Homo sapiens: one gene and its partner. The protein of the gene in region 1 purifies or fractionates together with the protein of each later gene. This does not show direct contact. Each region holds a gene or a part of one and is shown in the gene's direction. Other genes may lie near its edges.

Evidence for each region. The genes of interacting proteins can lie anywhere in the genome.
Region 2: the proteins of LRRN1 (region 1) and PTPRD purify together in Homo sapiens (affinity purification with mass spectrometry; 2 studies listed by BioGRID and IntAct, with this or other methods). This does not show direct contact.

Annotation. Positions count from the first base shown.
Region 1 is NC_000003.12:3,805,283-3,810,399, forward strand, and holds part of LRRN1 (leucine-rich repeat neuronal protein 1 precursor), read left to right. Parts: intron 1-5,117.
Region 2 is NC_000009.12:8,516,188-8,521,304, reverse strand, and holds part of PTPRD (receptor-type tyrosine-protein phosphatase delta isoform 1 precursor), read left to right. Parts: coding exon 1-28; intron 29-2,875; coding exon 2,876-3,457; intron 3,458-5,117.

The DNA of each region.
Region 1 (5,117 bases):
CCTATAATTTTCCCCTCTAGAAAGAAAAATGTTAGCATGGCAATAAAGAATATCATTAACCTGCATTGTTATTTCACAATAGTGATAAGTCTTAGTTTGCATCCATAATAATCAGTGTAATCAAGTACTGTACAGAGAATCAGGAAGGCGCAGGCTCAATTCCCAGCAATGACACTAATGACTCAATGTCTGACCTTCTGGATGTCCTGCAACCATCCCGGTGCTTCATGGCTCTATCAGAGTTGTGCGTTAAAGGATCCAGGAACACTGGTAGATGATTTCAATATCACCAGTGCGAATAATTTGATTTCTGCCCCAAGAGCTAGAATTATATGGAGAGCTAATGGTCTGGGTACAGCCCCTACCTTTCTGCAAGGTGATGTTTCTGGTCCCTAATCCCATAGCTAAGAGATTTTGTTGTTCTTTTTAAAATTTTCTCTCCCTAGCATTGACAGTTTCTCACCACCTCACCTGGGCCCGCTTGAGGGGAAAAATTTTACCAGGGGTACAGGAAGCCATTTACAATCATTAAACATTTGTTCACCTCACAAGTATATATTGAGCACCTGCTGTATGCCAGGCATTACAGAAGGCAGTAAAACTGAAATAAGTTAGCTTGATTTTTCTGCAGCTTGTACATTGGAGCATTTTGTTTCCATCAACCTATGCATTCTCCTACAAGTATTTATTGAGTGCTCTGTAGGAAAAAGGCACTCTGCACAGAGGATTTCAACCAAGGGTGATTTTTGCCTCTGAGGGGACATTAGGCAATATTTGGAGCCTTCTTTTTGTCATCGCTGTCACAAGTGAGGGTGGGATGAGGGTGTTATACCGGCATCTAATGGGATGCTGCTCAACATCCTAAAATGCATAGCACAGGAAGCCCCACGACGGAGAATTATCTGGTCCAAATGTCAGTAGTCGCAAGGATCCTGCCTCTGCCCTCAGTGAGCTTCAGTCTAGTCGGGGTTACAGAAAGGAGACTGACAAGTGCAGCATAGCGTGCTATGATGGTGGGAGTGCAGGCTACACAAGTACAGAAGCAGCAGCCTTAACTCAGATGTCAGCTGCCAGCAGAGGCTTTAAGAAACAGACTGGTTAATTCACAGAACAGGCTTTCACCTGCCACACAAGTGCTCAGCAGGAGACGATTTTCCATCTAGCCTCTTTGAACATAAGGGGGTTGGATGGTTGCTTGAGAGAGGGTAGACTCCTTAAGTTTGTCAAGAACTTTAAACTGAAGATGGAGTTAATTCCTTGTAGGAGTTGGTCAGAATTCAGTGTGTCTTGAGTAAACGGGAGAGGAGGCTGGAAACAGAGAGAAAGTCGATAGCAATAGACATAGGACAGCACAAGCTGCATGAAGAGAAGATGCAGCTGAGTTGACAAAGCTGTCACTGCCTCATATTTTAGAGCTTTAAACTTTGCCAAATCCTTAAATATTTATCTCATTTGACCTATAACATCCTGAGAAACCAAATGTGATTGTTCTTTCTCCTTTTCCCCAGTAACTGAGGGACAAGAGTCATGGAGAGGTTCATTGTGACTGTGGACAAGTCACTCGATGAAGTTTATCTGTAAAAGGAGAGGTCTTGTGAGGCTCCTCTTCCCAGCACAAGTTGAATTTGTCTAGGGTCACCCATCTAGGGGGAGACTGGAGGTGGGATAAGACCTGAGACTCCTGTCTCTCTCAGACCTAGTGTCTTCCACTCAGATGGTAGCAGCTTCCTAGACCGTGGAGTCCTAACAGGTAACAAGCTGACGGTGACTCAGCATGCTAGCTCTTGGGTTACCGAAGAAAGCAAGGACCTACGATGCATCGGTTAAAAAGTATCATGCAGAGAAACTTAAGCTGGGTTTCCCCTATACCTAAGGATTAACCACGCCCCCTACCTAATGGCTTATCTTAAGCTGACCTTAGCCACTTAAAAAAAGACTTGTGACAATCTGGGAAGAAAGGTTCATAGGAGAGTGCAGCTAGAGTTAGAAAACGAGATAGAAAATGGGACAACCCAGAACATGTGGGAAGAATGGACTGCCTAGAATAGATGTTATAGTGGTATCATTTTCTGTTTTCATTGATTTTTGTTTTTTCTTTGATAGGAGCGTTTTAACTTTCCTATCAGAGAATAATGACCAGTGTATACAGATATGCACACTTACATGCACACACATCACACATATAGAGCAGGGGAGACAGATTTCATACAAGTTTATGTTTCTTTCTTGTTTGTTTAGTAAGACTTGCACGTCAGAACGAGTTTTGGAGAGAACCTTCCCTCAAGGTCTTATTTCTGGTTTCTCTGGGATAATGAGTGTAAGGTTTCCTATGAGAAGTAAGACTGAGAAGCCACATGACTACTCAAGGTTCTTTTCATTCTCTGTGGTTTCCAGGATCAGGAGTGAGAGTTAGGTAGGACTTCAACCATATCCTGAGAGTTTCCAGGACACATGTGGAATCTACATGAACTCATCAGACCATCAGAGAACCATAAGGACAGTGGAGTAGCAATGACTGGCTTTCTCCAGGTTGTTATTCCAGCTGACTGTGGTTCTGTGCAGTGAGGACTACATGTAAGGCCTAACCCCCCAAAGGACCAGTTAGCTTTGCTGTGTTCCACAGGGACACAGCCAGCCTCCTCACGTACTCAGAAACTCATCCTTTCTCATGGGGAGGCCATGTGAAAAATGTAGGTCACTTCAAAGCCATCTGAAGGCAAAACACAAAATATGTGGGCAAAGGCTGGTGGGATATGTTTCTCTTCATGCATTCATTCACACTGTCAAATTGGAGTCCTGGTGAACAAGTTCCCAAATGGCTTCACTACCAGGATTGAGCACTGGAGCGGAGATTAGTTCTATGCAAATGAGATGCTTTAGTGATCGAGAGGAAAATATTACATAGAGCTCCCAAATTCTATCCCCAGAGCCCACCATTTTTCCTAACGTAGCATACAGTAGTAGCAGTAGAATAATGATACTCTACACTGTGCCTTTCCAATGTGTTGGGACCCATCACCAACACCTTATGTGCATTAACTCCTTTAATCCTTGCAACAACTCTGTAATGTAGACACCCACTTTATAGCTCAGGAAACTAAGGCAGACCGCAACTAAGTACCTTGCCCAAGGTCAAACAACTAGTGTGTATGTAATAAATATTTGTCAAGTGAATGAATGAATGAATGAATGGGTACACATCTGTTTTAGAGGAGAGAGTCCTTTATTTGAATTCTCAGTTTATGGCATTCCTGCTTTCCAGGCAGAGCATTTTCAAGAACTGCCTCTGTGACTTGTGAATGATAGGGGAAGAGCTGGTCGGTGGAGAAGCAGGGGTTGAACTTGGGTCTGTCTGACTCTAAACCTGTACTGTTAAAGTGCTTGGCTATATTTCTTCCTCTTTAATTGCAGCTATAAAACAAGAGGACTGGACTACGTTAGCTCTCTTAGCCCATTCCACTCAAAAAGTTACATAATTCCATATTAAAGTCTATGTAAAATAAATCACTTTTTTTTTATTTTACTACTTTTAATTTTGAAATCTAGTTTGGTATTTTTATTTAACCAATCATTGAATTATCTTTTAAAATTATATTAGAATTATTAACAGAACATATTTATAAACCCTCTTTAAATCATTTTAAATGGATGAGAATGCATAGTTACAGATTGCATTCTCCTAACCCTTACCATCTCACTGCCTATTAAGTTATATCATCATTGTCTAAATTTAGGTGTCTAAAAATTGAAAAGCATCTTTTGTTACACAGGGAAAAGACAGGTAAAGTGATTAATTTTGAAAAAATTACTGCCGATATTTGCAGAAATAAGTAGGTTGCTGAATCTAATGAATAGTATTGAATGATTTTTTTTTCTTTAAGATGGAGCCTTGTTTCTGTCGCCCAGGCTGGAGTGCAGGGGCGTGATCTTGGCTCACTGCAGCCTCTGCCTCCGGGGTTCAAGCAAGTCTTGTGCCTCAGCCTCCTGTGTAGCTGGGATCACAGGTGCCTGCCACCATGCCCAGCTAATTTTTGTATTTTTAGTAGAGACAGGGTTTCACCATGTTAACCAGGCTGGTCTCGGACTCCTGACCTCAAGATATCCACCTGCCTCGGTCTCCCAAAGTGCTGGGATTACAGGCGTGAGCCACTGCCCCCGGCCATGAAAAGTATTGAATGATTTTTATGAGCTTCAAACTGCTAGCAATATTAAAAGCTACTACTTGAGATTCGCTTCTAAGGATTGTTTTGCTTTAAGGTATCCTCCTGACATGCAAGTGAAGCATCAGAGCAATGTGTCAGTCATTGCCGTAGTGTTACAGGACATGCAGCCCAAGGCAGGGGAAGGAGTGGGTAACAAGGCATGTCCTAGATTTGGGAAGAGTTAGTTTCAGAACTGCTTCTCAGCTCTGTGATCTAGAGTGATTTCATGGAACCTCAGTATCTACATCTGCAAAATGGGGATGATAATAGAGCCCGCCTCTTAGAATCACTAGAATCATTCAGTGAGAACATGCATATAAAGTCCTTAGCACAGTTCCTCTTCCAAGGTACATACTTAGTATACAGTAGCAATGAGTAGAAGTGGTATTTGTGTTCAAATCTGACATTTCTGCCTGCTACAAAGTCTGCATTCTGAGGATGCTAATTCTGAGGCAAGTGGAGAGATTTTAAGGGACAAGAAGACTCAGACTAGATATTTTATGAAGTCCGTAGTTGACATGGTTGTCACCTTTCGTGGTGGACCCCTAGAGTGCTTTATGTTTGTCTAGACATGAGAAATATGGATTCCACTGATGTGCTTTGAAAGAATTGGCAAACAGGTGAATACATTAGAGCCTTTTTTGTTTGTTTCCAGATTCTCTTCTGTATCCCACTCTCTCTTTTCTCTCTGAAAATATTATAATGCCCCTAAATGGTGATTCATGGAATCACATTTTCTAAATAAAGAGAATAGGTTAGGTTCAGAGATATCATTCCACCAAGAGGAGCTGAATTTAAGACATTGTAGCAAACAAACCCAAAAGCTTCACCTCTCTGCCTCCACTGTGATATGAAGGTTGGCCATGTAAAACTCTTAGAACAATGCTGAGCGTGTTGTAAATGGTCCATAGACAA
Region 2 (5,117 bases), on another chromosome or scaffold:
GAAGCAATAGCACAGATCACTGTCAAAGGTATGCTCAATGGATTATGCTTTGAGGATCTGGGTACACTCAAGCCAAGTGACTAATGCCTCTAGAAAGCCCATCCTTGAAAATCTAAAATAATTCATTATTCAGCATTTTAAATGTGTGTATAACCTAATCATATCTGTGGTATTATATAACATGCATAAGCCTAGATAGGCGGATTTTTTCTTGGAAGTATCTGGCAGCCTATGTAGAGATAATCATCAGAATATTAAAAGACAGTCCATGGAGGCCCAGGCACTAACCAGACAGAACTAGGAATTTTACACATGGTCGACCATTATGGTGGGACTGATGTGTACAGTCTACATACTAGACCAGAACCTTGATAAGAACCCCAAGAAAAGTCAATATGAGCATTAATAAATGCTTAAAATTTCTAAATACAAAGGAAAAAGAAGAAAAAAAAAGTTGAAATCAACATAGTCTAGTAATAGATGATTTAACTTTTTGGTGAGCCCTACTATTAAAAATCAAAAGGCAAGTAAGAGTATATTCTGTTGTAGTTTTATCTTTCACCTTGCATAGATGAGTGCTCAAGGAATATTCTTTCCTTTAAAAAACAGACTAAATATAACCAAAGTACTATATTACATGAATATTTTTGAACTAAAGAGAAAGAGTACAAGCATGTAAGGGTACCGTTTTTTTTTCCCCTAGTGTTTATAGAATTCTAGAAAGTGTTTGCAAATTGAGTCAGACATAGGGCAACTTAAGTTTTCTGCAGATGGCTAGAACTATTGCAAAATGAACACAAATTATCTTCTTTTCCTAGGCAATGTTGTAGGCATTTGGAATTCAGCAGCAAGTAAGAAGTACAAGTTTGCTACTCTTGAAAAGCTGCCATTCTAGGGGGTGATCTTAGAAAATGCAATACACGTTATAATTGGTATCGCATCTCTAACCAAGCGTATATATCAAATATATGCTATATAAAACTAATGACATGAGAACAAAGGTACACATTGTCAACATTTACAATCGTGAAATAATGTTATATTGTGTAACCTTAATATAATAAGCACACATGTATTTATCCGTACATTACAGACATAAAACCTGTACTGTACAATAAATGTGACTTAGTGAAACTAATAATGTCAGCTAAATATCAGTGAGCACAGCTTTAATTAGCAATATTTGTATTTGCTTTGAAAGTTCAGAAAGACATGTAGGGGAAATCTGGAGCACACACAGCCTTGAAAAATGCCAGGTCAGAATATTTAAACAAATTTCATTTTATTATTATTTTCAGTAAATTCCCTTGACAAAATACTATCATTCTGTAGTTCTTTGAGTAGTGTGTAAATATTGAATCACCTTTTTTATAATTACCATTTCAGCTTTAAATATTTGAAGGCTTGCTGAAGACCTTTAAGAATTCAAAAGCAGGGGCCACTTTAAACTAATATTTTGTTCACCTTCTCATCTTTGTTTTCCTGACTCTTGCCACTTCCCTGTCTTTTCCACCTCAAAAATAAACAAATAAAACATAAGAGTGAATCTTAATGGCAAATTAAAATAAATCAAAACAAAAGAACAGGTTGAAGAGAATGAGGTGAATGGGTGCTGACTCATTTATTCAGTTAACTGTTTAACGATTCTCATTAAAAACCTACCGAGTGCCAGGCAGCATTCTAGGCATTCACAATTTTACAGTAAGTCAGAAGTACAAGTTTGCTGCTCTTGAAAAGCTGCCATTCTAGGGGGTGTTATACTTCTTGCCTTTATGTTGGCAAGGAAACAGGGACACTAATGGGCTGATTATATGAATGTTACCCTTTGAGATTTCTCTAAAGAGTCAACTATTAGAATGCCCCTTCCTACCCTAATAGCACTGCGTTTCAGAATCATTGTTTAGAATAAGGCACTTGAATATGAGGTCAGCAAAGCAGACAGTTTATATTTTTAATTAGTAGTATTTTGATTTGTATTCTTCTGCTAAAAAGAAAGAATTAGACCTCTAAAAAGATGGATTTTATTGCAAATATTTGTCATGTAGCTACATTGGATATTTCTGATGTGGAATATAGAATGCATATTAATATGACCATAACATACCTTAAAAAGTGATTGGTGAATGTGCCTTAATTTACTTCCTTCAGCAATTTTTAAATATTAAGAATAAAGCATTGATTTGAAATTTCTATTCTTTTGCACCTTAAAATTTTTGGTTTTTCATTTACAAGAAAATTTTTAGTAATGGTATTGTGTCTTACCAGAATATAGATGTTATTGTTTCATCGCAATTTAATTTCATTTCAATGTATTCCACATTTTGTTCTTTTCAATGTTTATCGGTATTTCAGTTATACCATTTATTTATTGGGGCAAGGGGCTAATTGGCCAAGCTTTTGGTATAATAATAGTAATAACTGCAGCTAATACTAAGGTTTTTTTGTGGGTTCCAGTTACATTCTAAGAATCTTAGTGGATTGGCTCATTAGTCTTCACAGCAAACCCATGAAATACAGTTACATACAGCTGTATAATATGACTTAAATAATAATATTTTTCCCATTTCCACATGAGGAAACTAAAGCAAAGAGAGGTTAAGAAATGCGTGCAGGATCACTTAGCTAATAAGTAGAGGATTTGGATACAAGCCTAAAAATATGCTATCAAGCCCTTCTAGGAAAGCAGGATTTGTGTCACCTATGAATGTTTTCCTGTCCTTCTTGGCCATTCAGAAAACTACTCTTTGCTATAATTTCATTTAATTAAATCTTCAGTAGATACATAATCCTGTCATTTTCATAGTAGAGTTTATAGATTTTTGAAATATTATAGGGATGATGGGTAGTCATTGTCTTTTATCTTCCCCCATCCAAGCCTTACCCAAACCTCCAGGAACTCCTGTAGTGACCGAGAGCACAGCTACAAGCATCACACTGACGTGGGACTCTGGGAACCCTGAGCCTGTTTCTTATTACATAATTCAGCATAAACCTAAAAACTCTGAGGAACTTTACAAAGAAATTGATGGGGTGGCGACCACACGCTACAGTGTCGCTGGACTAAGTCCCTACTCGGATTATGAATTCAGGGTTGTTGCTGTCAATAACATTGGGCGGGGGCCTCCCAGCGAACCTGTGCTAACACAAACCTCAGAGCAAGCACCATCCAGTGCCCCGAGGGATGTCCAGGCACGAATGTTGAGTTCGACCACCATTTTGGTACAGTGGAAGGAACCTGAAGAGCCAAATGGACAGATCCAAGGATATAGAGTTTATTATACAATGGATCCCACTCAACATGTCAACAACTGGATGAAACACAATGTAGCTGACAGCCAAATCACTACTATTGGCAACTTAGTGCCCCAGAAAACATATTCTGTCAAAGTCCTGGCTTTTACCTCAATTGGAGATGGTCCCCTTTCAAGTGACATACAAGTCATCACTCAGACAGGAGGTAAGTTTGGTTGAGGAGGGAAATAGGGCAGGAGGGAAGGGCTGGTGCAAAGAGGTGAGAAGGACAAAAACAAAGAAGGAACAAAGATGGTATGAATTTTAATTTTTGAGATTTAGGGCTTCAAAGCAACAGATGATAGATATCTGAAAAGGAACAAGCATGGACATCTGAAAAACTAATCATTTTGAGCAGAACAATGCATTAACACCCCTTCTTTTTAATTTGTATGGGAATGACTTGAAGACTTCTCTATGTGAGATAGAACAATGTCTCCCCCATGCCCAGTTTTGAGAATAGAAAAACGACACTTCTTTGTAATAGCTAGTATGGTAGAGTGGTCTCAAAAGAGTATTTAATTTGTGTAAGATTGGATGGTTCAAGACAAAGCTAAAAAATAAAACTGTTACAGGGCCTTGGGTATTTAAATGGCTTATATTTGCCAGAAGCTACTGGCTTGAAAATAAGTATTCTCTGAGTGGCTTTAATTTCTGTTTTTCTCTGTATGGCCTCAGTGGATAAAGAGAGACAGTTACCGAGATCTCAGATAGAACATTGGGCCTGATTGATTAACTTTGCTAAGAGCTACAGCAGACATTAGACTATTTTATGAAGGAAAACTTGGCCCTCCCAGTGGTTTTATTTTTCTAAGAGGTTATCAAACCTCTTTGGTCTTTGAGTCAAGGTGATCAGTTTGGCTTTGGGCTAATATAAAATAACAGGCCTCTTCTAAAGTTTATTCTTGAGCCACGCACAGTGGCTCACGCCTGTAATCCCAACACTTTTGGGAGGTAGGTGGATCACTTGAGGGTCAGGACTTTGAGACCAGCCTGGCCAATGGCAAAACCTCATCTCTATTAAAAATACAAAAATTAGCTGGGCATGGTAGCAGGCACCTGTAATTCCTGCTACTCAGGAGGCTGAGGCAGGAGAATCACTTGAACCTGGGAGATGGAGTTTGCAAGTTTGCAGTGAGCTAAGATTGTACCACTACACTCCAGCCTGGGTGACAGCAAGACTCCATCTCAAAAAAAAAAAAAAAAAAAAAAAAAGTTTATTCTTGAGCATCTGAGAGCTACTTCTTTGACTCCTTATTGTGTTGGCATCTTTTAAACCTGCATTAATCTACGAATGTTTTGGCATCATGCTGTTGGCTTGTTTTGAAATCTACATAATAATCATATTATTGGAGACAGTATAATCTGTAGACATAACTCATTGCTAATCCTGGCAATGAATTAATAAATTTTCTCAGATGCCAGTACTAGATAATGTACCTATCATCTATTTCACTGATACCTGTGAATCACTGACTTGTTTTCATGGCATGGTCTTTATATGAAGTATGTTTAACTATTTGTCCTTGCTTCTAGGAATCTCAGAGCACATTTATATTAATAGTTCGCCTGCCTTTATTTTCATACCATTATTTGGTTCTTATTGGCTTGTTCATGGATTTACTCTTTTCTCTATGACATTGTAGGAAAGCCAGCTATAAAAATATGTCTCACCACAGTTGTATTAAAAACTATCCATATATCTTCTCTGTGTGCCATTTGCAGTACTTCTGTATTTATTTGCTGTAGTAATATGCAGAAAAAAAATACTGTAGGCTGTTCTTACCAAAAAAGCTTCTCATTGGGAAATGTAGACATCCGTAAAT